Linked DNA regions of Homo sapiens: region 2 is linked to region 1. The links come from fine-mapping of genetic effects on gene expression. A gene starts in region 1. The other region holds a variant in brackets. All regions are shown on one strand. Distances are from middle to middle. Region 1 holds the start of LBX2-AS1 (LBX2 antisense RNA 1). Region 2 holds the start of MRPL53 (mitochondrial ribosomal protein L53).

Evidence for each region.
Region 2: its variant is fine-mapped to the expression of LBX2-AS1 in whole blood (TOPMed, PIP above 0.99).

The regions. Positions count from the first base shown.
Region 1 is chr2:74,494,927-74,506,110 of GRCh38, forward strand. It overlaps LBX2-AS1 (LBX2 antisense RNA 1), which reads left to right and starts at 7,667. Exons shown (of 2, transcript NR_152616.1): 1 at 7,667-8,026; 2 at 8,714-10,139. LBX2 (ladybird homeobox 2) reads right to left here and starts at 4,677. Exons shown (of 2, transcript NM_001282430.2): 1 at 4,407-4,677; 2 at 2,591-3,392. The coding sequence starts at 4,611. The coding sequence ends at 3,001. It overlaps PCGF1 (polycomb group ring finger 1), which reads right to left. Exons shown (of 9, transcript NM_032673.3): 5 at 11,026-11,131; 6 at 10,811-10,844; 7 at 10,626-10,712; 8 at 10,413-10,493; 9 at 10,117-10,264. The coding sequence ends at 10,217. RefSeq lists enhancers at 2,974-3,023, 7,575-8,199, 8,200-8,825, 8,296-8,590, 8,497-8,566.
Region 2 is chr2:74,460,402-74,476,746 of GRCh38, forward strand. MRPL53 (mitochondrial ribosomal protein L53) reads right to left here and starts at 12,279. Exons shown (of 3, transcript NM_053050.5): 1 at 12,168-12,279; 2 at 11,957-12,069; 3 at 11,581-11,851. The coding sequence starts at 12,259. The coding sequence ends at 11,718. CCDC142 (coiled-coil domain containing 142) reads right to left here. Exons shown (of 9, transcript NM_001365575.2): 6 at 15,211-15,325; 7 at 14,824-15,001; 8 at 14,515-14,714; 9 at 12,431-14,401. The coding sequence ends at 14,145. WBP1 (WW domain binding protein 1) reads left to right here. Exons shown (of 4, transcript NM_012477.4): 4 at 1-480. The coding sequence ends at 280. MOGS (mannosyl-oligosaccharide glucosidase) reads right to left here and starts at 4,981. Exons shown (of 4, transcript NM_006302.3): 1 at 4,495-4,981; 2 at 4,095-4,321; 3 at 2,789-2,985; 4 at 656-2,611. The coding sequence starts at 4,846. The coding sequence ends at 874. It also overlaps INO80B-WBP1. RefSeq lists silencers at 4,548-4,767, 6,961-7,255 and enhancers at 11,688-11,817, 12,218-12,317. The variant C/T (reference allele first, on the strand shown) is at 9,567.

The DNA.
Region 1 (11,184 bases):
CCTGGGAGGCGGAGGTTGCGGTGAGCCGAGATTGCGCCATTGCATTCCAGCCTGGGTAACGAGCAAAACTCTCAAAAAAAAAAAAAAAAGAAATGCAATTTCTCAGGCCCCCTGCAGTGACCTACATCAGAAACCATGGGAGCAGGGCCCAGCAATTTGTGTTTCAATAAACCTACCAAGTGATCCTGATACACACTGTTCAAGGGCGGGGCTTAGCGGAGCAGACCTCCATCCAGAGGCCATTTTGGTGGGACAGGTTTGAGTTTTGTTGTCCAAGTCTTCAGTATAAGAGGTGGCAGTGCTAGCTGGGCTAGAATTTGGGAAACCTCAATGGGGAGAGAGGTTATGACTCAGCCAGTTAATTTGACTGGACCCTACCTTCCTAACTAGAAGGATTTGCCCTGAGAGTTCTTTGCTCACCCCTGGTTGGGGAGCAGGATGGGCATAGGTGGTTGTGTTTGTCCAAGGGGTGATTATATTACAGTGGTTCCATAAGAGGCCTGCCCATCTGGCTTTCCTGTTTTTGAGCAGGGACCTGCATGCTTTTGGGATGTCTGTAGGGCTCCTGACCTCTCAAAGGCCACCCACCACTACTCAATGGTATTTTTGCCTTCCAGCTGAGCTGGCTCCTTGTTCTAGCTTCTCAAGTAAATGTTCCCTCCCCAGTACCTTAGCCTGCCCTGGACTTGTAGCTTCTCCAAGAGTCACGTGACTCCTGACACTTTGCCCCATTTTCACCCTCCTAATTAATAGGGGTCTGACCCAACAGCCTGAGTTCTGAGTTCCCAGGACTGGAAAGTAGAGTGACCAACCATCCTGGTTTTCCTGGAACTGAGGGATGTTCTGGAGTGAGGGACTTTCAATGCCAAAACTTGGAAAATGCTGGGCAGATGGGAAAGAGTTGATCACCCTACTGGAAATGTTCCAGAGAGGCAGTATTTAGAAGGGAGTACTGAAGGGGCAATGCAGTTGCAAAGAATTATTTTTTTGCATATGCATAATGGCTGACAGATTCTTAGCTCCACACCAGTGGTCACTGTCTGTTTCCATGTTGCCATTTTTCTTCCAGTTGCCCACATTTGCTAGGTTGTCATTGACTCATGCAATCCTTGATCCCTGGGGCAATCGCAGATTCCTCTTCTGTGACCACCTCCCAGCCCCACCTCAAGTCTGGCCCTGAGTTCTCTCTGCTGTTACCTTTTGCAGTGGCCAGATATATACTCCCTTTTTCAGGTCTCTACCAGTCTCTGATCCAACCTGCGCCCACAGCCAGATTGGCCTACCCTAAACAATGGTCTCTTGTCTCTCTTCTCTAAAACCTCCAGGGACCATGCTCTAAAGTACAATGCCTAAGTCCCTACCTGTGGCCCTTTCTCCTCCCCTTTCTCTGTAAATCCTTTGCTTCTTTCCTTTAGGCTCAGTCACCTTTATAGAGACCAAGAGCATGGGCTCCTGAGTCGGACAAGCAAACAGCTCAGTCCCTGTGCCACCACTTACAAACTGTGACCTGGCCAAGTTTCCTCAGGGTTCTGTAATTCAGTCTCATCCTTAAAATGGAAAGAAAAGTCTCTGTCCTGTTGGGTTATTTTAAGGATTAATACCTGCAAAGCACTTGGAACTGCTTAATAAGTGGTACTGTCTGAAAATGCCAGATTCCCTTCTGCCTTCCAGCCTTGTTCACTTTCCAAGGAATATTCTCTCTTGGGCCCTCCACCTGCAACTAAGGCCCTAGCTGACCCCCGTTGAACCCATGGAACTTCCTTGAAAGTAGGGTTGTCACACTTAGGCAGAGGCAGGAGAAAGTCTGAAGAGAGCCAGAGGACTGACAGGAGAGAAGGGAAGCAGGAAAGACAACTGAGCTTGATCTGAAGATTGGCTGGGACCACTGGGGAGGGGAAGGCCTGCAACTACTGAGCGTTCCCCCTCCTCTCCCCTCACACTGCAGGAGGGTGATTATCACCAGTGGAATAAATGAATGTCAGAAATGTCCACTGGCTGAGTTAGGCTGGAATCCCTACCAGGCAAGGCCACTACTCCAAGCTTCGCCCCAGCAGGCCAAGCCTTTCCACCCTCTGGCTGCTGCCACCATCCTAGTGGTAAAATTTCTGGCCCAGGGGCCTGGCAGAGGTCTTCCAGGTAGGGGTGTGGCCTCTCTGGGCACCCGTCTATTTGCCTGTGTCCCAGCGGAGGGTTCTTTTGGCAGGATGGGGAAAGGGTCAGGAACCCATTAACAGGTGGGGAAACAATGTCATCACTCTGGGGCCAACCTAGGGATTAGAATCAAGGTCTCCCAGGCAGACAGTAGGTGGGCCAAGGCCCCACTGTCTTTCACTCAGGCCCGGTGACTTCCCCTTGGTAGACTGATAAGCATCAGCTCTGAAGGCTGGCTGGATGCTGGGTCCAAAACCTGACCTCAGGGTTCTGACTTTGTAAAAATGGTGTAATTATTACCTACCTTAAAGGGTTGCTATAAGGGCTAAAGGAAACATTGCATTGAAAGCCCTGGCACAGTGCCAAGTGCGGACTCCCCATAGCACTTTACAGATTTTACTGTTTCTTGCTTCTGGCGGGCGTCTGGATAGAGGCATGGTGCGGCAGAGTCTCGACTTTATTCTCAAATATTGGGAAAGTAGCCTGGACAACATAGCGGGACCTCCTCTCTAAAAAAAAAAGTTTTTTAAATTAGCCTGGGGTGGTGCTGCACGCCTGTAATGCCAGCTAGTCGGGAGGTTGAGGCAGGAGGATCGCTTGAGCCCAGGAGGTCGCGACTGCAGTGAGCGGTGATCGCTCCACGGCACTCCAGCCTGGGCGACAGAGCGAGGCCCTGTCTCAGACAACAAAACAAACTTACAAAAAAACCGGGAAAGGTGAGCGTCTGGACTGTGGGCCGGAAGAGGCCCAAGTGGACCTCCTTCCTCCACCCTGGAACTCTGGCCAGAGGCAGAGCGCGAGGTGAGGAGTCCAGGGCCCCAGAGCCCAGGATTGGCGGCGGCTTTGTCTTCAATCGTCCACCTGTATCTCCTCGTCTGACAGGTGGGGCCGGGAGTCAGGGCCGGCAGGGCCGAGGCAGAGGCCGGGATCTGGAGCGCCTTCGGGCAGTGCTAAGCTGCACAGGACTTCCGGGGACAACGCGCGTAGCGAGGCGACGTCGGCGCGCATCTCCTCCACATCGCGCTTGAGCTTGGCTCGCCGGTTCTGGAACCAAGTGACCACCTGCGCGTTGGCCAGGCCGAGTCGCGTAGCTAGCCCGTCTCGCTCGGACGGCGCCAGGTACTTCTGGAAGACGAAGCGCCGCTCCAGCTCCAGCACCTGTTGCGCGGTGAACGCAGTGCGTGACTTGCGCCGTTTGCGGCCGAAGGGACCAGGGCCCAGCGCGTCCGGACCTGCCCGCCCTGTAGGGATAGGGAGGGGGTCAGTTTCCAGCCTCCGGGAATCAGGCTGGGCCTGGAAAGAAAAGTTGGGGGTGGGGTCGGGCCGGTGGCGGTGGGGGAAGTAGAGGGAGAGCCAGGAAGGCGGACGGAGACCAGAACTGTGATCCCTTATCGGGAGTCAGGCCCAGGTGGGGATATGGGGCGCAAAGCGGGCTGGCCACAGGGGTGCGAAAGGCAGCAGGCTGAGGGCATATTGTAGGGGCAAGGAAGTGAAGGAAGGGAGGGATGATTCAGAGGTGCAGGGTCAAACCTTCTGGGGTGGAGCCTTTGAGGCTTTTAGGAGCCTCAGGCTGAGCAGGCTATAAGTTGAGGGTGACATCAGAGGCGAGTAAGAGTCAGGGCAGCCGACCCAGCGTGGTGGTGGTAACAGGACTTAGATCATGCCCTTCCATGGATCGGGTCGGGCATTCGGTTTACAGTTCCTTAGTGACACCAGAGCCCGCTCCTCCGGCCCCAAAGGGAGATAATGAGGTACAGAGAGCGAGAAAAGGCAGAGTGCGGAATCCCGCGCCCAGTGCTGCGCCAAGGGCTTTCTGCTCCTTGACTCCCCTCGAGAAGAGAGTGGCTTGGAGCGGAGCTTGGTCACCCGGAAAGACTCGACTCTCCAGCGCTTTCTGTGCCGCCTTTGCAGGCTCACTCGTTTACCGCCTGCGGCTGAAGCCTTTTGTCTCTTTCTCTCCTGCCTTTCTCTATCGCGATTGCCCCGCCTACAAGGAACAGAGCAACAGGTCGCTCAGTTGGCGACGGTCTGCCCTTTTCCCTTGGCACTGGCGGCCTTCCGGAGCCGCCGCGGAACCTAGGGACTAACGGAGGAGAGGTGAGAAGTCGCAGGTGCGAGTCCTGGCACGTGGGCTGAGGACAGGGGAGGATTAGGGTGGGTGGCCTGGGCTGGGACAAAGGTTTGAGACGGGGAACCAGGAGGAGAGAGGTGAGGAAAAGGCTAAGTCAGAGTCCGCGACCTTGCCGGCTCTATACCTTCAGAGGGCTGCAGAGCGCGCGCGTCAAGTCCGCGGAAAGTTTTACTAGTCAGCTCCTCCAGCGCGCACAGCGGCGACGTTGGACCCGGACCCGACTCTGGAAGCTGCGGCGCAGAGGGTGCTCGGGGGACCATGCGCGGGGCTAGGATGTCTGCGATGCTTAAGAGTGTCCGGGGTGTTCGGGGCTCGCGTCCCGAGTTCATGGTCGGCCGGGCTGGGGCGGTCCGGCTGTCCGTTGCGCTAGGCTCCGCAAACGCCTGGGCCCCAGTGCTCGGCTCCCAATCCGGGCCCCCAGCCTCGGACCCGCCCCCGGCTCTGGGCCCGAGTCCCGTGTGCCCCTCCTCCTGCGCCCCCACCTCTCCACCCCGGGCCGCGGTGGATCTGGAGCTCCTAGATGTCCGGGGAGGGTATTTCTACAGGCTGGGGCAGGCGCGGAGAGCAGAAGCCGACCAAACTACCCACCAGAGCAGGGCCACGGGGCTGCTCCGCGCTGCGGGGCGCTGCACCGTGCACAGTCAGGCCGGGCCATACCTCCAGACGCTGTATGCCGCCGACTCCCCGCCTAGCCGCCGCTCCGGCTCATAAACTAGTAGACGATAAAATTGCCTTCTCTGGCCCCAGCGGCTGGGGATTTGCAAAGTTCTGAGGAAGGCTATCAGGGCTGACTGTGCTGGGATCTCTGATCCCAGCTAGGACCTCAGTCTCCTAACCTGGCTCCCTCTTCCCCACCCCACCCCTGAGAAACGTTGTTTCTGGTCCTGACGGCTGGAAGTGATTAGTGCTGCATGGGTCGGGGGCGCAACACTTGGGAGGACCTGGCCTGGCGGAGCGACTGCAACTGGGAATAGTGGGGATGCCACGAAGAAGCAAGCACAGGTGAATGGACCCGAGGCTGCCCCACCTGACGAAATCAGAACACACAGAGAAGCTGCCGGGAGACCCGGGCCGCAGGAGAGAAGACCCAGGGAACTCCCAGCTGGTGCAACTGCCCAGGAGGGGTCTTTGTCAGTGAGGACTGGCAAAATCAGTCGATTTTGTCTGTCTTTATCTTCTTTTTATTAAGCTCCCATAGTTCAGGTATGTATGGTTTCCCCAGCCTGCAGAGGCTCAGAAACTGCCAAGGGGAGCAAGGTGCCCTGACCAGAGAGGGGTCACTCCCCATAGAAGAGAGACTTGAAGGGCAGACTTCACGGACCCAGCTGGATCTTGGGACATTCCTGACAACCCAGGTACTAACTGTGAGGCCTGGTATACTCATTCCTATTTAATCTGGGCCCTTTTTATCTGCCACACTTATTCTGGTTCTGGGCTCATACCTGGGTAAGCACCCACAGCCCTCCTTTGTAGGAAGAAGGCAGCTCAGGGACAGTGGGGCCTCAGCAGTTGAGGCCCAGCAGGGTATGGGTTTTGTTCCTACATTCCACCCCAAACAGCTGGAGGATTCACACCTTAGAGCAGGGAAGCCCTGCCACTCCTGAGGAGCTTGCTGCTTTGCTGCCCAGGGAAGTCAGAAACTGATGTGCTTCTAGCTTTTTAAAACAGTGTCAGGAAAAACCAGGCCAGTCCCTCCTGGACTGTCCATTATGTCACTTTCCTTGTAGACCCCTGCATCTCCCACCATCTGTGCAGTGTCCACCTGTCTATTCCCTGGGGCAACTGCTGCATGCAATTGGGGTTCCCTAAACAGGGCTTAGGAGATCCAAGGCACCTGGGCCAAAGACTCCTTGACAAAGATGGGAAGGCACCTTGATAGGGTCTTCTTGGTAAAGGGCTCACTCCAACAACCCCCCTCCCCCACCCGCAACATTCACATAATGCCCTCCTGGAAAGCTGAGCAACACACTTAAAGGCTGATGGGCCACTGCTGGATCAAAGAGCAGAGCCAGGCCATGGTGGAAAGCTGAGCTGCCTCAGGACGTTGTTAAATGGTTATTAATGGTGAGGGGCAGGGGAGGGCCTGGAGAGATCTTCGGGCTACAGGCCTCAGCCCTGGAAACCATCCTAGTGGTTTCACTTAATGTGCAATAAAGCAGCTCTCTGGAGGCAGCAGGAACTGCCCCACTGCATCCCAGGCATATCACCAAGCAGATGCTGCAACCTTCACTCATGCATCCTCTATGTGGCTTTTGTGTCTGTCTCTACCTCTGCTCTCAATTACTTACGTGTGTCTGTGAGGAGTGTGGAGCTCTGCTGATGGGCCTGTGCCTCACAGCCCCTTCCATCTCTCCCGCCTAGTTCTCCCCTCTGCAGCTGGGCTCAGGTACTGGGATTGGACAGCTCCTAAACATGAGTTTGGGGGAGGAGATGGAAGTGGAGAGTAGCAAAGGGAGGAGGCCCAGGACAGCAGAGGCCCCTCTAAGGTCGTCAAAGCGGCCAGGGACTAGTCCAGGGGATCGTGGGGCCACAGAAGGGGACTTTTCTCAGTACTGGAACTCGAGCTGGGGCGAAATCGGATCCACAGAGAGGGGTAGGAGGGTGAGTGATTAATGAGGAAGATTAAGAGATTAAAACTTGTTCTGGGTTGGGGAGGGGACACTCACTCGGCTGTCCTATAGGTTACCCCCCACCCCAGCTTGGAAGCACAGAAGCTCCTGGGTGCTCGCCTCTTCCCACCCGCGGGTAGAACCCTCCCTGTTCACGATCCTTCTCAAGAGATGCACGGAGGCCAGCCTTCACCGCTGGCCCCGCGGGGCCAACGGTTTTCCTTTTCAGGCAGTCTCTTGTGTTTCCCACCTTCTCAGATTCCTTTGATTGTCCATTCAGACATTTCGGGGCCCTGCGCTCCCTCCCCTTGTAGAGATCCCCACATTCCAAATTCGCTGTCTTGGGAAGGCACCCCATTCCCGCTTAAGGATGCTTCCTCACACCTCCCCTTTCAGATTTCCCATTCTCACCCCTCAGCCCTACCCCCACCTTATCTTGCACCCACACACCCCATCGGCGGGTTCCTCCACCCCGGGCCGCCCCCGCTCGACCCCGTTCCCCACTGGTGGCACGGAGGCCTGCTCAATAAACGACCTTTAGTCTCGGATTGCCGGCCCGGACATTCCACTGAATTCTGTGAATGTGTAGCAGGGTTGGAGGACCCTCGGAATAACCCCCTTGGGGAGGTGGACAAGGACAATCTCAGCGAAGAGCTTGCTCCCCTCCTCCCCACCCTTAGGAAACGTCCGTGAACCGGAGTGAGAGGGCAGTGGGAGTTCAGGGAGCAAAGTCCAGGCGGAGGAGCGTGAGGCGGGGCTTCCGTCCGTCCCGCACACTTCTGGGATTGTTTTCTCTTTCAGAAAGCGCTACTGCGGAGTGAACCGGTCCTTATATCTTAGTTTCGTGACTTTGGGGGCGGCAGGCCTGTGAGTTGTTTTCCGCCCTGGACGCTGTTTTGCAAAGATCTCTGCGCGCCCACCGCCACCCTCCCGGGCGTGCGGGCCGGGAAGCAGCCAGCGGTGGGAAACTCCGACGCCCTCCTCGACACTTTTCTCCCCCCAACTCCCCAAGACTCACTTCTAGGGAAGTCCTTTTTCCCATCAAGCCCTGGGAAAGACTGGCCAGGCTGAGAGAGGGACCCGTCCTCCTCTGTGCCAAAGGCGGGAGCAAATCCTGGTGCTGTCGCCTTTGGATGTGAGTCCTGGAAATGGCGGGGGTGAGGAAGGTGGGCAGGGGCAAGGTTTGGCCCTCAGGCGAGAACCGACGCCTTGTCCCGGAAGCGCAGCACGGCCGAGTGCGTCCGGGGGTGCAGACGGCGCCCTGGGGTGGTCCTGCCGCCACCTCTCCTTTGACTCAGGAGCGCCGCGCCGCGTCCGGGCGCGTTCTCAGTCGCGCGAAGCCAGAGAGGACCCTGGGCGTGATTCTCCCTCCCTGGCACAGACGGAGACCCGAGTGACCCCGGGGTCCGGGTGGGCGTGGGGAATGGACCCATAGACCCGGGACGAGCGGCGCGGAGCCCGCAGCTGGCCAGCTTCAGCCACCTTGGGAGACGCAGTGCAGCTGCCGCTGCTGACAGACAAGACCAAGGCTCGGCTGGGCCCCACCCCAGATCCGGCCTGAGCGCCTTCCGCGCTGCTCGGCCTCAAGGCGTGAGTCACCAAGGGCAAGTCCCGTGACTTGGTCCTCAGGGTCTCCGGCCTCGGCACATTAATCTTCAGACCCGGCTTTTTCGACGCCGAGCTGCCGCCCAGCCCCAATGGCAGGGCCTTCCAGGGAGTCCCAGTCAGACTGCTCCCCAGCTCCCGCAGCTGCTCGGTCCCTGCAAAGCCCCCGGGAGCGTTTCTACTCTCCCCTGAGCCCACGCCATCCCGTCACTCCTAGGAAACTTTTCGCGCAGAAACTCCTGGAGAACAGCCCCGGCCGCCAGGTACTCGCCCGCCCGGACCGCAAAGCCCACAGAGCTTCAATTCGCAGGAAGGGGAGTGGGGAGCCCTGAGCTGGGGTGTTCCTGGAAGAGGTCGGGGAGCGGGGGGAGAGGCATTCCAGGCTGGAGGCCTGGAAACGTTTGGAAGCTTTGCTAACCTTGGAGACCATGTCAGGAAAGAAGCGTACCCAGGCCGTCTGCTGTGTGCCCACCCCGATCCCCATCAGTGCCCCACGCACTCGAGCTCTTCTTCGGCGTCTGCAGCCTCTTCATCCGCGCGGAGAGGCGGAGGTCTCCCGGAAACAGTGTCCGACTGTGGCACCCCAGAGCGTCCAATGCGAGCTCAGGCCTTTCCCGCAAGTCTGGAGTTTTCTTATCCAGTTGAGGCCGCCTTCGCTGTACTCACTCTCTGCCTCCCACCCCATCTTCTGCCACCCGACCTCCATCTTTGATGGTTAGCGCCTTCAGCCCTCAACAGCTTCGCACAACCAACCCCTAGAAGCCGTGGAGTCAGACCGGCCAGGGTGGGACCTAGGTTTTAACTCGGGTTCTGGCTACACACGCTGCGCCTCCATACAGTTTGTCCCAGGTTTGGCAGCAGGCCGGCTACCTTCAGGAATTCTTTGCTTTGGCTTCTGTCTGTTCCTGTCTGTTGGGCAAGTTTCTAGCTACCCCACTGAGAGAACCATAGAACAAGGACCCTGGCATGGCATACAGACAAGGAATGTTTGCTGAATTAATGGAGCTGGTGCCTTGCAGCTTCCCTTTTGTTCCTTGAAGTTGCCCTTGCTCTCCTCCACATCAGCTCCCTCTCCTCCTCAGCTACTTATTCCCCACCCTGGCTTCTTCTAGTCGCAGTCCCCAAGTACTTGCTGAATCCTGTATGGACAGCCTAAGCCTCCATTTCTGACAATTCCTGTGGCCCCACTCCATTTGTTTTTTAGACTTCTCCCTCCTTTTTGTCCCCATCCCCCAAGTTATAAAACTATAATGCAATTCTTTGGATTTTTCTTTAAAAAATCACACTTGTTCAATCCTGCAGCAGCCACTGTCCAACTCTAGCCTTCTCACCACCGCTGAATTAGGAAACCTCCTAAGAGGCCCGCACCCGCACTGTATGCTGCAGCATACAAAGACAGCTGAGAGCTCCCCTCCAGGAAACCTTCCCATCACCAAAAAGAGTGGTGTGGGAGGCCTGGTTTCACACATATAGGGATCCTCTACCCTTCTCCTTTGGCAAGACATTGAGGGCCCATGGCCATAGAGGACAGGCCCTTCTTCACAATGAAACTCAGAGGATTTTTGAAGAAGGCAGGACACAGCATGAGTGTGAGGCAGGAAGAATAAGGCAGAAGAGAGGTGCTTTTTAAAAGTTTTTATTTCAAAAAATAAAGCTGCAGTTCATTTCACATAAATATCTGGGGAGGGAAGGGGAGTGGGATGGGGTGGGGGCTTGGCCCCTACCTCCTCTTCTCTTTCACACTGTATTGTAAAAGCAAAGGGGATGGCTAAGGAGAGAATGAGGAAGTAGTAGTCAGTGGGGAATGTTCTTATATTATTCAAAGGGCCCCTCAGCCCACCCTTCCCCTGAGGACTGTAGGATGGTTGGGGGGAGTCTGAAGGGGGTGTGATCCCAGGGAGGGTGGCCTGGCTTACCTTGCCGAACCAGCGGGAGAGCCATATCTGCTTCATTGTCATGTGATCAGGGAGAACTTCATTGTCAAAAAGGAGCTGCACCTAGGAGGGAGATGGGGGCATAATTTTAGGAACTTTCTGGCAGGTCAAAAACTACCCTGGTCCACCCTAGACTCTGTCCCTCCTTTCTTAGCCCCTTCTCCCCCTCAAGAAACCTACTGTGGGACTACTCACATGCTGAGGGTTTAGCATCAAGCGGTGACACAGGACCCTCCGGAGATGGCGTACCTCAGCTCTAACAGAACATCGGACATACTTGTTCTGGGAGCAGGGAGGGGAGGGAAGAGGGCAAGGTGTGTGAGGGAAGGACCATGGGAGGTGAGTCTCCTTAGAGAGGCCCTCCCCTCAGCCCTTCTCACCTGCAGGACGCTTTTATTCTTGTCTTTGCCAGAACTGGGGGGAAATAGACACAGGTTAGGGAATCCTATCTTTCCTCCTCTTCCCCACCCAGAGCCATGATATACTCTCTTCAAGGGGATAGGCACTCACTCACTGCTCAGCCTCTCCCCTAGACCCTCCCTGGCTCTGGGTCATTGGCACTGTCACCTCCTGCAACCCCTGACCTTCTCCTCACCTCAGCCGCTCCAGGCACAGGTTCAACTGCTCATCATAGCGATAGTAGTGGGCTTTAGAGTGGTCAAAGCTGCTGAAGGGGAGGCCGAGGTTGCTCAGTGCTGGCTCTGAGAAAGATAGGGTAGTGAGGTGGCTGGTGGCACACATTCCATACTCCTCT
Region 2 (16,345 bases), 32 kb before region 1:
CTCCCACCAGAGTGCCCCCCCTCATCAGGAGGGTGAGCCCGGGGCAGGGGTGACCCCTGCCTCCACACCCCCCTCCTGCCGCTATCGCCGTTTAACTGGCGACTCCGGTATTGAGCTCTGCCCTTGTCCTGCCTCCGGTGAGGGTGAGCCAGTCAAGGAGGTGAGGGTTAGTGCCACCCTGCCAGATCTGGAGGACTACTCCCCGTGTGCACTACCCCCAGAGTCTGTACCGCAGATCTTTCCCATGGGGCTGTCTTCCAGTGAAGGGGACATCCCATAAGTAGTTTTGAGAGGGTGGATGGGTTACTTGCCCACCAGAAACAGCCCTAGTCCCAACTCCTTGCGTTCCTTTGGCCCCTCCCTGCCTACCTAGAATCTGCCTGAAAGGGCTGGAGAGGGGCAGTATTGGGGGACTGTGCTAGCTTTACCCCCGCAGGACATACACAGGAGCCTTTGATCTCATTAAAGAGATGTGAACCAGCTACTTGTGGATTTGGGTGGACTAAAGCTCAACTCACTGCATTGCACTTGACCTGACTGGGTTTGAAGGGGACAGGTTATGGCCACTTGACCCCACCTTCCCTGAGGACAGCAGACAGTGCTGAGGCCTGGACTGACCTAAGGCCTCTTGGTGAGGCAAATCTGGCAAAAGCAATAGAGTTCAAAATGTTTTTTCCAATTTATTTAGAAAAATAGACTCTGGATTCACATTCACCCCAGGGCTATGTGGGATGACAGCAAGGAGACACCTGAGATGAAATGAGGAAGGTTTGAATTACTGGTATCCAAGGGGCTGGGGGCAAAAGCCAGAAGCCTTTGTCCCTTCAGAGCCAGAGTGGCATGAGTGTCTTGGCTCCCCTCCTCTCCCTCCCTTCAGTAGTCTTCAGCCATGGCCAGTAAGACAAGGCTGGTCCAGCCGTGGAAAGGGCGGCAGCCCATGCCTCGCCCATCGCGGTCACTGTACTGCTCCCAAAGAAAGCCTGTAGCCTGGTACTGGCGCCATACATTGCCTACCACGTTGGCACGGAGCTCACCGTGGAGTTTGGCAGCCCGAGCCTGGTGAGGACCCTCCAGATGCCCATAGTGGTGGAGTGCTCCCAAAGCCAGGTAGTTGACATTGAGCCACACAGCACCCCGCCAGTAGGGGGGATCATGCTCTGAATTGCGCTGGCCATAAAAGGAGCTGGAGGCTGCAAGGGAGCGTAAACCAAAGGGGCTCCAGAGATGGCGGCTGTCGGCTAGAATGTCCAGCAGGGGCCCAAGGCGGGATGAGGTGGGGTCCAGCAGTCGCAGCAGCAAGGGAAAAAGACTGACATAGCCAAGAGCATCTACATACTGCAGTTGAGGTTGGGGCCGACCCACCACCCGAACGAGCCCCTGAGGGGGCCTGGGCTTCAGCTGTACTGCTTTTGTGTGGTTCCCAAAGTCTGCAAAGACTCCTAGCTCTGGGGCCCAGTGCAGCTCATCCAGGCTCTCTGCTGCCTCCAGTGAGGCAGCCAGTGGGCCCAGCTCAGCAGCTACCTCAGCCTCACCCAGATGCTCTGCCAGCCGCGTCAGCACACGGGCACCCAGTGCCACCCAACATCGCAGGTCCAGGTGCCGCTCGGTTACTGAAGGGTGTGAAGCCCGGGGGTAGTCATCCAGCCCAGAGGGTAGGGTCTTGGGGTTCAGTAAGGTTGGTAAGGCAGGGTCCCGTCCCCGCCAGCGGTAAGATAGTGGCAGTGGGCCTGCCTGGCTCTGATGGAGCCAGGAAAACCAGGCATGCAGGCGGGGCAAGGCCTTTCGGAGGAAAGCCAAGTCGTCAGGGTCACCAACCTCTAGCATATGGGCTACAGGCAAAAGTAGGGTTGGGGGGTTGGCGTGGACTGCTCGTTGTACTAGGAATTCTGGAGGCACCCGGGCTCGGGCCTCATCCCCCAGTATCTGCTCCCTCCCAATCCAGCCATCAGCATTTAGCAGCCCCAGCCAGTGGCCAAGGGCTTCCCGGGTGAGGGAGGGATCCCACCGCTGAACCACCAGCTGGTGAAAGCCTTCATCCCAAAGGAAGCCTCGTGGGAAGAATGACCGGGAGGGCACTGCTGTAAAAAGAGGTACGGGTGGAAAGAGGGCTGGGTCCACCTTCTGCTCAGACCCTTCCACCCCGATGTCTGGCAATACCAGCCCTTGTCCGTAGAAGTAGCCAATTCCACCAAGGAGGCCGCTGAGGGCAGCCTGACCCAAAACCTGCTCGCCAGAGCTCAGGCCCTTCTCCTTCAGCTGGAAGGTCTTCTCAAAGCGCTCTCTAAAGCCTTCAGCATGGCTCTCCAGGGCCTGGGTCAGTAGACTGCCTGCCAGTCTTGGCAGGGCTTGATTTCCTCCTGCCTGGGCACTGCCTGATTCAAACACAAACTCTATGGAAATGGGAATTTTCAGGGTCACCTGCTGTATCAAGAACTGCCCCTGCCCTTGCCCACTTGGACCTCTGTCCTCCCACTTCAGGGATCCTGGCAAGCCGAGGTAGCGTTCAGGGGGGGCCCCTGGGGGCCGATGCTGAAACCAGCTATTTAGGCGACTCTTTACCATCTCTGTCAGCAGGGGCAGTCCTGGGTTGGAGGTCCAGAAGACATTGTAGCTTGAAGGGGAGAAGATAAATAGGAAATATTATTCAAGAGAAGGCAGTGGGCATTATAAAGAGAAATACAAAGTGTTCAGGAGTCAGGTTGGGAGGTCTCAGGCAGGGGACATGGAGACTGGTGAAAATGGGAATAACCACCCCTTCCATCCCCCAACATTCTTTTCCCCCAGTTACCTGCCATACTTGGGGGCTGTATCCCCTGGACTGGTTGGTGGCAAAAGTGTAAAGCGGAAGTCACCAAGTTCACTGGTGTGCCCACTGATAAACTTCAACTGCCCCTTGGCCCCAACCTCTGGTAGTAGGACTTCCTTGCCATCTGTCACCACATAGAAGAACAGGGAGACCAAAGGGAGGGCAGAAGTACCTGAGTCCTGAGTGACCAACGAGGACAGAAAAGAACAGTGTTAGATTGGCATTCTCTCTTGAATTCCCTCTTGAGAATCAGCCTTAGTGAGGGAAAGGAACAGTAGGCAGGGGTAATGTAAACAACATACGTCTGGCAGTAATGAGGGTCACTGAGGGTAACCAGGTACACCCAAGCGGGATGAGATAAAGAGCCTTGCACTGGGTGCCCTGGGAGATAACAGTATACTTTTGTACTATGTCCTACACTAAGAACTCTACACAGTTGATTTCATTTAATTCTTTTTTTTTTTTTTTTTTTTTGAGGCGGAGTCTCGCTCTGTCGCCCAGGCTGGAGTGCAGTGGCGCGATCTCAGCTCACTGCAAGCTCCGCCTCCCAGGTTCACGCCATTCTCCTGCCTCAGCCTCCCGAGTAGCTGCGACAATAGGCGCCCGCCACCACGCCCAGCTAATTTTTTGTATTTTTAGTAGAGACCGGGTTTCACCGTGTTAGCCAGGATGGTCTCCATCTCCTGACCTCATGATCCGCCCGCCTCAGCCTCCCAAAGTGCTGGGATTACAGGCGTGAGCCACCGCGCCTGGCTTTTTTTTTTTTCTTGAGATGGAGTTTTGCTCTTGTTGCCCAGGCTGGAGTGCAATGGCACGATCTCGGCTCAGCGCAACCTCCACCTCCCTGGTTCAAGCAATTCTCCTGCCTCAGCCTCCCAAGTAGCTTGGATCACAGGCATGCGCCACCACGCCCGGCTAATTTTATATTTTCAGTAGAGACGGTGTTTCTCCATTTTGGTCAGGCTGGTCTGGAACTCCTGACCTCAGGTGATCCGCCAGCCTCGGCCTCCCAAAGTACTGGGATTACAGGCGTGAGCCACCGCGCCCAGCCTCTTTTTCATTTAATTCTTACAGTCCTGTGAGTTAAGTGCTATTATTATCTACATTGTACATTTTACAAGCAAGGAAATCAAGGCTTAGAGATGGTAAATAGAAATGGTTATACAGGCAGTTGTTTAAGGCAGGATTTAAGCCAGGCAGCCAGAGCCCACTTCATGCTGCATTTGCTGGCAGCAAGGGAAGGATGGAGGGGGTCTGGGCTGAGAAAAGGGTGTCCTGAGGCCCTGACCTGAGGCTCTACAGTCACTCTCCAGCTCCAGTCCCCTCCGTGCTGACCCCCAGGCCTCTTGACGAACTCAGTGGTGAGCCTTAAGGCCCCATCCTGGATGTGTTGGCGCCCGAAGGAGAGGCCGTCGTGGAACTCCCAGCCATAGGGACCCACACCGTCCCCCTGCTCACACGTGTGCCTGAGCTTAGGAGTCCCCGGGGTGGTGCCCTGCTGCGCCCACATCAGTCCTGGGGGTAGAATGGCCACGTAAGTCAAAGAGCAGGGGACCTGTCCCTCCGGGTCTCCGGGTCATCCCTCTTCATAACTCTCCTGATCCATTCCTTCCCACCCTTGCTCTCGCTTCAAGCTGGGGCGCCCAGATTAGGAGTCCGCCTGCCTGCCCGCCCTGGGGCCCGGTTACCGGTGAGGAGGGGCTTCGGGCTGCGGGTCTTCATGCCGAAGTAGACGTGAGGGCGGTAGGTTCCCCAGAAGAGGTCCGGGGCCACGGCGGGGCTGGAGGAGTCGGCAGGCAACACAGGAGGCGCGGAGTGCAGCGTGACCGCCCGCCGCGCACGGTACCACGCCAGCACCCAGCGCCCCGACATACCCAGGGCCAAAGACAGGACCACGACGGCCAGAGCCACTCCTCCAGCCGTGCTACGCGGCCCGCCGCCCCGGCCGTCCCGTCGCCCGGGGCCTCCCCGAGCCGCCCTCTCGGCTGTCCGCACTCCCTCTGCCGGCACTGCGCGGCGCCGCCGCTCGCCCCGAGCCATCCTGGCACTGAGGTCCGCGTCACAAGAGCTCGGAGAGGCGGCAGTGGAGCCCGGGTCCTGCCTCACCTCTCCGGCTCCCGCCTCTCGCCCTGGCGACCACCGTCCGGTTAGCGACACCTGCCAGCCAGCGCCTGCGCCTCCGCCTCCGCCTCCCGCCGGAAGTCCCGCCCCGCCACGTTAGGTTAAGTCCCAGAGTCCGGAACCGCTGCCTGCGGCTTGACACAGGGTTGGTACGTAGCGTCTGTCCTGGGCGTTGGTCCACCGGGATTGCGTTTATCTGGCGACCCCATGGAGTTCACAGGCTCGGAAAAACCAATCTAACGTTGGGCTGAGGCATGAGAATCGTTTGAACCCGGGAGGCGGAGGTTGCAGTGAGCCGAGATTGTGCCACTGCACTCCAGCCTGGGCGACAGAGCGAGACTTCGTCTCAAAAAAAAAAAAAAAAGACTGATGTGGCCAGGCACCGAGGCGCACATCTGTAATCCCAGCACTTTGGGAGGCCGAGGCAGGTGGATCACCAGACATGAGGAGTTGGAGACCAGCCTGGTCAACTTGGTGAAACCCCATCTCTACTAAAAATACAAAAATTAGCCGGGTGTGGTGGTGGGTGCCTGTAATCCCAGCTATTCGGGAGGCTGAGGCAGGAGAATTGCTTGAACCTGGGAGGCGGAGGTTGCAGTGAGCCGATATTGCGCCATTGCACTCCAGCTTGGGCAACAAGAGTGAAACTGTTTCAAAAAAAAAGAAAGAGAGAGAGAGAGAGAGATGGAGGGAGGGAGGGAGGGACGGAGGGAGAGAGAGAGAGAGAGAGAGAGACTGATGCTTTATGCAACACGACCACTTATATTTCACTATAATCTGACTGGTGGCCCCACTCTCCACTAGTGGTAGACTTTTTGCTTATGAAATCATCTGACCAAACCCAATGGTTAGTCCTGTTTTTGTCTTTCTTGCTACCGTTGCATTTGTCGACATCCTTATTGTAGCACTTATTACATACCTGTTTCATTTTTCATCTTTGTATCACAGTACTAATCAATTATAGGCATAAGGCAGATGCTAAATATTTATAAATTCAACACATGTTTATTGTACACCCTATATCGCATTATGCAAGGTGCTGGGGACTCAGAGAAAATGGCCCCAACCTCAAGTTCACAGTCTAGAAGCACAATGCCAGCACTCAATGCATGTTGAACCATACCCATTTTTTTTTTTTTTTTTTTTTTGAGACGGAGTCTCGCTCTGTCACCAGGCTGGAGTGCAATGGCATGATCTCGGCTCACTGCAACCTCTGCCTCCAGGGTTCAAGTGATTCTCCTGCCTCAGCCTCACGAGTAGCTGGGATTACAGGTGCCCACCACCACGCCCAGCTAATTTTTGTATTTTTAGTAGAGATGGAGTTTCACCAGGTTTGCCAGGCTGGTCTCGAACTCCTGACCTCAGGTGATCCACCCACCTCGGCCTCCCAAAGTGCTGGGATTACAGGCGTGAGCCACCGCGCCTGGCCAGACCACCCCCATTTTTACAGATGAGGAGAGTAGTTAAGACTGACCCAAAATAACAGCCAGTTAATTATGGAGCTGGGGAACTCAAATCCAGGTTGTTCTTTTGACTTTAGAATAAGGCCTCTTAGGGCAGGCGCAGTGGCTCAAGCCTGTAGTCCCAGCACTTTGGGAGGCAAAGGCGGGCGGATCACCTGAGGCTGGGAGTTCGAGACCAGCCTGACCGACATGGAGAAACCCCGTCTCTACTAAAAAATACAAAATTATCTGGGCATGGTGGTGCATGCCTGTAATCCCAGCTACTCGTGACACTGAGGCAGGAGAATCACTTGAACCCGGGAGGCAGAGATTGCAGTGAGCCAAGATTGTGCCATTGCACTCCAGCCTGGGCAACAAGAGCGAAACTCTTGTCTCAAAAAAAAAAAAAAAAAAAAAAAAGAATAAATAAGGCCTCTTAGATAACAGCAGTTACTACACTCCCAGCAATGTTTTAGGTACTTTACAGATATTAATTCATTTAATCTCCTTAACAGTCCTATGAGAAAAGTACTATTATTTTCATTTTACAAATGAAATAAGCACTGATAGATTAAATAATTTGTCTAAAGTCATACAGCTACATAAAAACAAAGCTAGGATCTCAACCCCAAGCAGTCTGGCTCATTACAACACTATACTGCCTCCTCCTAGCTTTCTTTTTTAAAGGGGGAGGGGAAAAACGGTCCTTTGAAGATAGCACCCTTTTAGACCGGGAAAAGGTATAGTAATGCTGCTGTAGGAGGGTCGTGGGAAATGTATCTGGCAAAGTACACAGCAGGCCACTGTCTACAGATCTTTTGTTACCTAGCTGAGCATTGTGAAGGTGTCTAAAGCAGTGGCTTTCAACCATTTTCCTACAACTCACAATAAGAAATAATTCCATAGTGCAACCCAGTATGTGCAGATACACATACACACACAACTTATTTAAAACAAGTTACCTAAAAGAATACTTTTAGCTGGGTGTGGTGGCTCACGTCTGTAATCACAGCACTTTAGGAGGCCAAGGCAGGAGAATCACTTGAGTTCAGGAGTTCTAGACCAGCCTGGACAAGATGAGGAGACCCCCCCATCTACAAAAAATTTAAAAATTAGGGTTGGCCGGGTGTGGTGGCTCACGCCTGTAATCCCAGCACCTTGGAAGGCTGAGGCGGTGGATCACCTGAGGTTAGGAGTTCAAGACCAGCCTGGCCAACATGGTGAAACCCCGCCTCTACTAAAAACACAAAAATTAGCTGGGCATGGTGGCACGCGCCTGTAATCCCAGCTACTTAGGAGGCTGAGGCAGGATAATCACTTGAACCCGGGAGGCAGAGGTTGCAGTGAGCTGAGATGGCACCATCGGCGACAGAGCAAGACTCCGTCTCAAAAAAAAAAAAAAAAAAAAATTAGGGCTGGGCACGGTGGCTTACTCTTGTAATCCTAGCACTTCGGGAGGCCAAGGAGGGTGGATTACTTGAGGTCAGGAGTTCCTGACCAGCCTGGCCAACATGGTGAAACTCTGTCTCTACTGAAAATACAAAAATTAGCTGGAAATCGCTTGAACCCAGGAGACAGAGATTGCAGTGAGCTAAAATCGTGCTCCACTGCACTCCAGCCTGGGCAACAGAGCAAGACTCCATCTCAAAAAAAAAAAAAAAAAATTAGGCCAGGCATGGTGGCTCACGCCTGTAATTCCAGCTGCTTGGGAGGCTGAGGCGGGAGGACTGCTTGAGCCCAGGAGATGGAGGGTGCAGTGAGCTACGATTGTGCCACTGCACTCCAGCCTGGGTGACAAAGCATGACTTAATCTCTTTAAACTTCCTATTCTAAGTGCCATGCAGTCTGATTTTTTTTTTTTTTTTTTTTGAGATGGAGCCTTGCTCTTGTCAACCAGGTTAGAGTGCAATGGTGCTATCGGCTTACTGCAACCTCCACTTCCCGGGTTCAAGCAATTCTCCTGCCTCAGCCTCCCAAGTGGCTGGGATTACAGGTGCCCGCCACCACACCCGGCTAATTTTTTGTATTTTTAGTAGAGATGGGGTTTCACCATGTTGGTCAGGTTGGTCTTGAACTCCTGACCTCAGGTGATTCCGCCCACGTCGGCCTCTCAAAGTGATGGGATTACAGGCATGAGCCATTAAACTCAGCCTCAGTCTGATAATTTTTATTCTATTCTACTTTTTTTTTTTTTTTGAGACAGAGTCTCACTCCATCAACCGAGCTGGAGTGCAGTGGCATGATCTCCACTCAGCGCAGCCTCCACCTCCTGGGTTCAAGTGATTCTCCTGTCTCAGCCTTCTGAGTAGCTGAGATTACAGGTGCCTGCCACCACACCCAGCTATTTTTTATTTTTTTATTTTTAGTAGAGACAGCGTTTCATCATATTGGCCTGGCTGGTCTCTAACTCCCAACCTCAAGTGATCTGCCCGCCAAAGCCTCCCAAAGTGCTGGGATTACAGGCATGAGCCACTCCACCCGGCCTACTTTTTTTATTTTATTTTATTATTATTATTTTTTTAAGAATGGTTTAGGCTGGGTGCGGTGGCTCATGCCTGTAATACCAGCACTTTGGGAGGCCGAGGTGGGTAGATCACCTGAGGCCAGGAGTTCGAGACCAGCCTGACCAACATGGAGAAACCCCCTCTACTAAAAGTACAAAATTAGGCATGGTGGTGCATGCCTGTTATCCCAGCTACTTGTGAGGTTGAGGCAGGAGAATTGCTTGAACCCGGGATGCGGAGGTTGCAATGAGCTGAGATTGTGCCATTGCACTCCAGCCTGGGCAACAAGAGCGAAACCCTATCTAAAAAAAAAAAAAAAGAATGGTTTAACTCCCTAAATTGATTGCATGGTCCACACTAATGAGTGTTGAGGAAGTATGAAAAACAGTTTAGGCAATGTTTTTTCTTTTTTTGAGACGGAGTCTTGCTCTGTCACCCAGGCTGGAGTGCAGTGGTGCAGTATCGGCTCACTGTAACCTCCACCTCTTGGGTTCAAGCAGTTCTCCTGCCTCAGCCTCCTGAGTAGCTGGGATTACAGGCAACTGCCACCACGCCCGGCTAATTTTTGTATTTTTAAGAGATGAGGTTTCACCATGTTGGTTGGGCTGGTCTCGAACTCCTGACCTCATGATCCACCCACCTCGGCCAAATCCCAAAGTGCTGGGATTACAGGCATGAGGCACCATGCCCGGC[C/T]GGCACTGTTTTCTTAAACAGGGAGTAGTGAGAGATAAAACCCATCGCATGTTTTGGAAGGATAAAATTAAGTGGCAGCAAAAATATTTAGGAAATAGACTGGGTAGCAGAATGCAATAATGATGAATAGAGTGAATGGGAATGGAGAGATCACTTCAGAAGTTTTGTTTTGTTTTTGAGACAGTGTCTTGCTCTGTCACCAGGCTAGAGTGTAGTGGTGCAACCACAGCTCACTCTAGCCTTGAACTCTTAGGCTCAAAAGGATCCTCCTGTCTCAGCCTTCTGAGTAGGTGGGACTACAAGTATGAGCCACCTTGCCCAACTTTCAGGCACTTTTTTAAAAGACAGAATATTCTGAACTGAGTGACCAGATATGCAGAGAATGGAAAGGAACAGAACTAGAGAACACTGGTTTCCAGCCCAGGTGGCTGAGTAGATGAAGTGCCTGTTTTTAAAAAGGAATGGGTAAGTCAGGGAAGAGAGGCAAGTATATGTGTATGTAAGATTATCAATTCTATTTTATACAAAGAGAGTTGGTGGGATTTGGAGGAAATTGGTAGCAGGTAACCTGATTATAGCATAGAAGTTGGGATTAGAACCAAACAGAAATAGTTTAACCCCAGAAGGTGTAATTCAAGTTGTGAAAGAGGATGAGATGCCCCAGAAAAAAATAGAGAAGAAAAAGAATGAAGGTAGAACACCTGTGTGGTTCAAAAGAAAAAGGACCCAAGAGGGAGAGAAGTTCCACAAATGGGTGAATTAAGAGTTGCAGGCCGGGCACAGTGGCTCATGCCTGTAATCCCAGCACTTTGGGAAGCCGAGGGGGCGGATCAGGAGTTTGAGGACAGCCTGGCTGACATGGCAAAGCCCCATCTCTACTGAAAATACAAAAATCAGCCAGGCGTGGTGGCACATGCCTGTAATCCCAGCCACCCAGGAGGCTGAAGCAGGAGAATCACTGGAACCCGGGAGGCGGAGGCTGCAGTGAGCCAAGGTCACGCCACTGCACTCCAGTCTGGGTGACAGAGTGAGACTCTATCTCAAAAACAAGAGTTGTAGATGCGGCCAGGCGTTGGTGGCTCACGCCTGTGAACCCAGCACTTTGGGAGGCCGAGGCAGGAGGATCACTTGTGTCCAAGAGTTAGAGACCAGCCCGTGCAACAGGACAAAACCCCACCTCTATTTAAAAAAAAAAAAAAAAAAAAAAAAAAGATGGAACTGGGATACAACGATGAGAGCTGAAAAAACAGCACTCTGTTAGTGTTTTTGTTTTTTTTTTTTTTTTGAGACAGAGTCTCACTCTTGCTCAGGCTGGAGTGCAGTGGTGTGACCTCAGCCTACTTCAACCTTCACCTCCTGGATTCCAGCGATTCTCTTGCCTCGCTCGGCCTCCCGAGTAGCTGGGATTACAGGCTTGTGCCACCACACCCAGCTAATTTTTTTGTATTTTCTAGTAGAGGTGGGGTTTCTCCAAGCAGGTGATCTGCCTGACTCGGCCTCCTAAAGTGCTGCGATTACAGATGTGAGCCACCACGCTCAGCCTATCAGTGTTCTTTCACACAAGATTTGGTAAAAGTAAGAGGGCTGGGCACAGTAGCTCACGCCCAACACTTTGGGAAGCCAAGGTGGGAGGATCACTTGAGCCCAGAACTTCAAGACCAGCCTGGGAAACATAGTGAAAACCCTTCTCTACAAAAAAATTTAAAAATTAACTAAACGTGGTGGCGCGTGGGGCGTGCCTGTAGTCCCAACTTCCCAGCTACTTGGGAGGTTCGGCTAAGCCCAGGTTACAGTGAGCTAGAATCATGCCACTGCACTCCAGCCTGAGCGACAGAAACAGACCAGTCAAAAAAAAAAAAAAAAAAAAAAAAAAAAAAAAAGAGGTACCTTGAGTGAGTGGTAGGAGAAGCCAGAAGCCAAATTCAAAAGGGTTAAGCAGTGAGTGATAGTAAGAAAGTGAAATAAATTCAGGTTCATCCAGACACCTCTCTGATCTAGTCTTGTTCCAGAAACATTGTGGTAGCAGGGTTTTAAACTTTATTTTGCGCTCCGTGACCCTTCAGATAGTGATTTGAATGATTAAGTGAAACTCTTCTTAGGTTAAGTGTCCTAGTCCACGCTAAAATCATCTTGTTGGTCTCTTTGGCGCTGTCAGCGACCAGTATCAGCGCCCGGCTTGTCCCCGCTGCCCGCCGCGTCCCTGGCCCGGATGTGGGAGGCGAAGGCGGTGAGCATTTCCAGAGCGGTGAGATGAGCGCCGCGCATAATCAGGCGATGCCCGTCTCCTGGGGAAGAAACAAACGAGTGAGACAGGGAGGGACCGCAGTGCTGGGGCTTAGGGGCGCGCGGGCTGCTCGCTGTTCCCTCCTGCCCGTCTCCACCAAGCCCACCGAACAGCACGTCCACGCAGGGCTCGGAGCCGTCATGCCTCACGTCCGCAATCACTGAGCAGTTGAGATTAGTGGAGCGGACCTTCTCACTGCTCACCGTCTGCAGGAAGGTCCTACGGTGGAAAAACAGAGGAGCGCCAAGCTGAGGGCTTAAAGCCCCGGCTGAAGGAAGGCGCACCACTTCCCGCTTCTACCCACTTCCCCTTCGTACCTCGTCGATTCCACGTTTTTCTCGAAGGGACAGAACTGAACCCGAACCTGTTTGACAGGCCGCAGACCAAGCCGAGCCAAGGCAGCTGCCATGGTGACCTCCGCCCCGGAAGAACTCGTGCAGGCGGAAGTGTCGCATTGCGTGAGGCCGTGAATGGCTGCGCTTCTGCGGGATAGACTTCCGGCCGCCGGCTGCTTAGCAGGCCTGCGAACCGCAGCTCTGGGCTTCCTAGCCCAGGCGGAGGAAGGCAGGAAAGAAAGAGGTGGTTTCGGCACAACGCATGGGGGAGCCCAAAGTAGGCTGTCAGCAAATACAGCCTATCATGAATAGTCCTCTCATACGACGGTGAAAACCATAAATAAATGGCGCAAAAACCTCTTTGCACGAAAATACGCCCGTTTTCTGCAGCCTTTCCCCTTCTGTACCCTGCTGGGCCACATCTAGGCTAACTCGATCTTAAATCCTGGCTTCTTCCAAAGAGAGAGCACTAACACAAGCCGGGATGATCCACACCAGAAGGTAAACACCATTCAGGTAACTGAAGATTAAACGTAGTGAGCTCTGAATAGCCAAAGCTTAAACGTGAAAGTACTACAGCCCAATATTAGTAAATGACTGAAAATAGTAATAGGAAGGGCAGTACAGGGTAATACTGTCCTTGGGGCTGATCCAGGTATAGAAATGCCTATTAAACCTCTGTGGTTCTCCATGAATTAGCGTAGCTCCCAGGACTTAAGTTGAAGTGCATTCTAGCCAGTTTTCTTTTTTTGAGACGAAGTTTTGCTCTTGTTGCCCAGGCAGGAGTGCAGTGGCGCGATCTCGGCTCACTGCAATCTCTGCCTCCCGGGTTCAAGCGATTCTCATGCCTCAGCCTCCTGAGTAGCTGGGACTACAGGCGCGTGCCACCACGCCCGGCTAATTTTTTGTATTTTTAGTAGAGGCGGGGTTTCACCGCGTTAGCCAGGATGGTCTTGATCGGACCTCGTGATCCGCCCCTCTAGGCCTCCCAAAGTGCTGGGATTACAGGCGTGAGCAGGCGTGAGCCCCCTCACCTGGCCGAGCACTCAACTCTTTATCCCTGAGATATCTTCAGTGATGGAGAACTAGGCCTGAACCTCCCAAGGGTCTGACCTTCAGGTTCCAGGCTATGGTCTTGCTCTTTACTCTGGATTCCAGGTGCTGGAGTGATCTTGGATTTTTTTTTTTTTTTTTTTTTTTTTTGAGACGAAGTTTTGCCCTTGTTGCCCAGGCTGGAGTGCAATGGCACAATCTCGGCTCTCCGCAACCTTCGCCTCCTAGGTTCAAGCGATTCTCCTGCCTCAGCCTCCTGAGTAGCTGGGATTACAGGCATGCGCCACCACACCTGGCTAATTTTGTATTTTTAGTAGAGACGGGGTTTCTCCATGTTGGTCAGGCTGGTCTGGAACTCCCGACCTCAGGTGATCCGCCTGCCTCAGCCTCCCAAAGTGCTGGGATTATAGGTGTGAGCCACCATGCCCTGCCTAATCTTGGATTTTTTTTTTTTTTTTTTTTGAGACAGAGTCTTGCTCTGTCACCCAGGCTGGAGTGCTGTGGCTGGATCTCAGCTCACTGCAAGCTCCGCCTCCCAGGTTCACACCATTCTCCTGCCTCAGCCTCCCGAGTAGCTGGGACTACAGGCACCCGCCACCACGCCCGGCTAATTTTTTGTATTTTTAGTGGAAACAGGGTTTCACCGTGTTAGCCAGGATGGTCTTGATCTCCTGACCTCATGATCCGCCTGCCTCGGTCTCCCAAAGTGCTGGATTACAGGCGTGAGCCACCTCGCCCAGCCCCTAATCTTGGATTCTTAAGCCCAGGCTCTTTGTAGCTTATTCTCCAGTATGCTTTCCTCCAAGCTTCCAGTTCTGGGCTTCCTTAATATGCAATTCCAAATGTCTGGATTTTCCAGCTAGAGATGGGGAGCTCTTAACTTTCTGGCTCCTGGTCCCAGGCTCCTTAGGATTCAGGACTGGTTCCCAGGCAGGAAAAAAACGGCAGGTGCCAACGGGGTCGCTGGTGTTGCCTGAGGGCAAGCCAGGCCTGCTGATTTCCCACCAGGTAGCCCTCCGGGCTAGGTCCCCTTCCTCCTAGTGTGCTTTGCAGCTGACCTGTCTGGGCTGGAGATGTTCCAGGCTGGAGCGGGGGCTCCAAGCTCTCCAGGCTATTGAGGCAGCTGCTGGGCAATTTCGTGGTCTGGACCTCCTGACAAGCACCTGGTAAGGCAGGAGTGGAAGGTAGGTGGCTGCTGGGGATATACTGAAGCCAGATTAATGGTGAGAATAGGGTTTGGGACACACAAAGCAGTGAGCGAAGGGGAGTAACTCACAGCAACAGGGGGGCCTCCTGTGGACTTGAGACTTGGGCAGGGGCTGCTGCAACAGACACAGCAGGGCCCCATCCAGCTGCTGGAAGATGCTGAGCATGAGCAGGGTCTGGCGGAGATCAGGGGACAGGCTCCACTGCTCCTCTTCCAGCAACTCCCTGACCACTCCAAAGTCTTGTTTGAGCTGCAGCGCTCCCTGCAGGCTGAAGGCAGAGGTACAGTATGGCCACTTGACCCTCCTGCCTCTCCCACTTATCCCCTTCCTTTTCCCAGTTCCATTCACCCCCTGCCACTTCCACCTTTACTCCTGACCTGAACCGAATCCCATGGGTAAGAATGTGGTCAAGCCAGGCACCCACGATGGCCGTCAGAGCCTGACCAAGGGCAGGGGCCTGGGCTTGAGGTGGCAACCCTTGCAATCCTTGCAACACAGGCTCCAGTACGGTGCGGACCACTAAACCAGCATACTCACTAGGAGCACTGGGAGGTTCTGGAATAGAGAAGACAGAATATAAGGCTGTGGAGATCCATTGAACCCCTAAATGGAGTGTTTGGGAGAAGAGGGTAGGATTTCAGGAGGGAAGGGTACAGAAGCTGAGGACAAGGATGGAGACAGTGGAGGGGAACCGGAATTTGGAAGGGCTGAGACACTATTACCCCCTTGGAACTCTGGAAGGAGAAGCTGGGATGAGGAGTTACCAGGACAGAGACGAAGCCGCCAGTACCGACCCCGTGGCATGTAGAGCTTGAAACCTTGCATGGCTTGTTTATGACATTCTTGAGAAAAGACACTTAGTGACTCTTCAGGCAGGAGCTGTAGGGATAGGGAGAAAGTAAAAGGGGCTTGTCAAATTATGATGATCCTCTATATCTAAGGAGCTCTATGTCCAACTTGACATCCATAAAACCCCAGAATTGTTGCATAGTTGTGTATGCCTGGCCATTTTTTGAGGAGCAATGCCATAGTTGTCATTGGGTTTTCCAAGAGGTCTGGACCCAAATTATGAACAATTGCCCTAGGATTACCTTGCTCTCCCCAGCTTGGTTCAAAAGATGGAAAATCCTTGAGGTTAATTTTACTATACAAGAGCTTTAAGGAAAAAGAAAGACATACCCTGCCCCCACCCCCGCAACACACACACACACACACACACACACACACACACACACACACACACACACACACACACAGAGCATATGCCAGAAAGAGGGATTGTATGATCTGCAATGGGCAGAAATTGAGGGAAGAAAGGGGAATTACAACGACCTTTTATTTTTGAGGCAGAGTCTTGCTGTGTCGCCCAGACTGGAGTGCAGTGGCGTGATCTCGGCTCACTGCAACCTCTGCCTCCCGGGTTCAAGTGATTCTCCTGCCTCAGGCTCCCAAGTAGGTGGGACTACAGGAGTGCACCACCACACCCAGCTAATTTTTGTATTTTTAGTAAAGACAAGGTTTTGCCATGTTGGTCAGGCTGGTCTCAAACTCCTGATCTCAGGTGATCGGCCTGCCTCTGCCTGCCAAAGTGCTGGGATTACAGATGTGAGCCACTAAGCCACTACACCCAGCCTACAATGATCTTTTGGTTATCACCTACAAAAGGAAGACAAGAACTGTATGTAAACCAGAAGCAATGACTATTTGAATGTTCTGAGACTCAGGAAGTTTTGGAATGTCCTTACATTGAAAGGCATTATTATATATTATTATTCTTCACAGCCCACTCCAGAGCAATATAACCCATAAAGCAAGAAAAGGCCTATATGCTGGGTTTGTTTCTTTGGTTTGATAGGTTGTTTTTGGAGGGAGAGAACACAGCAATAAAGCTGGTTTCTG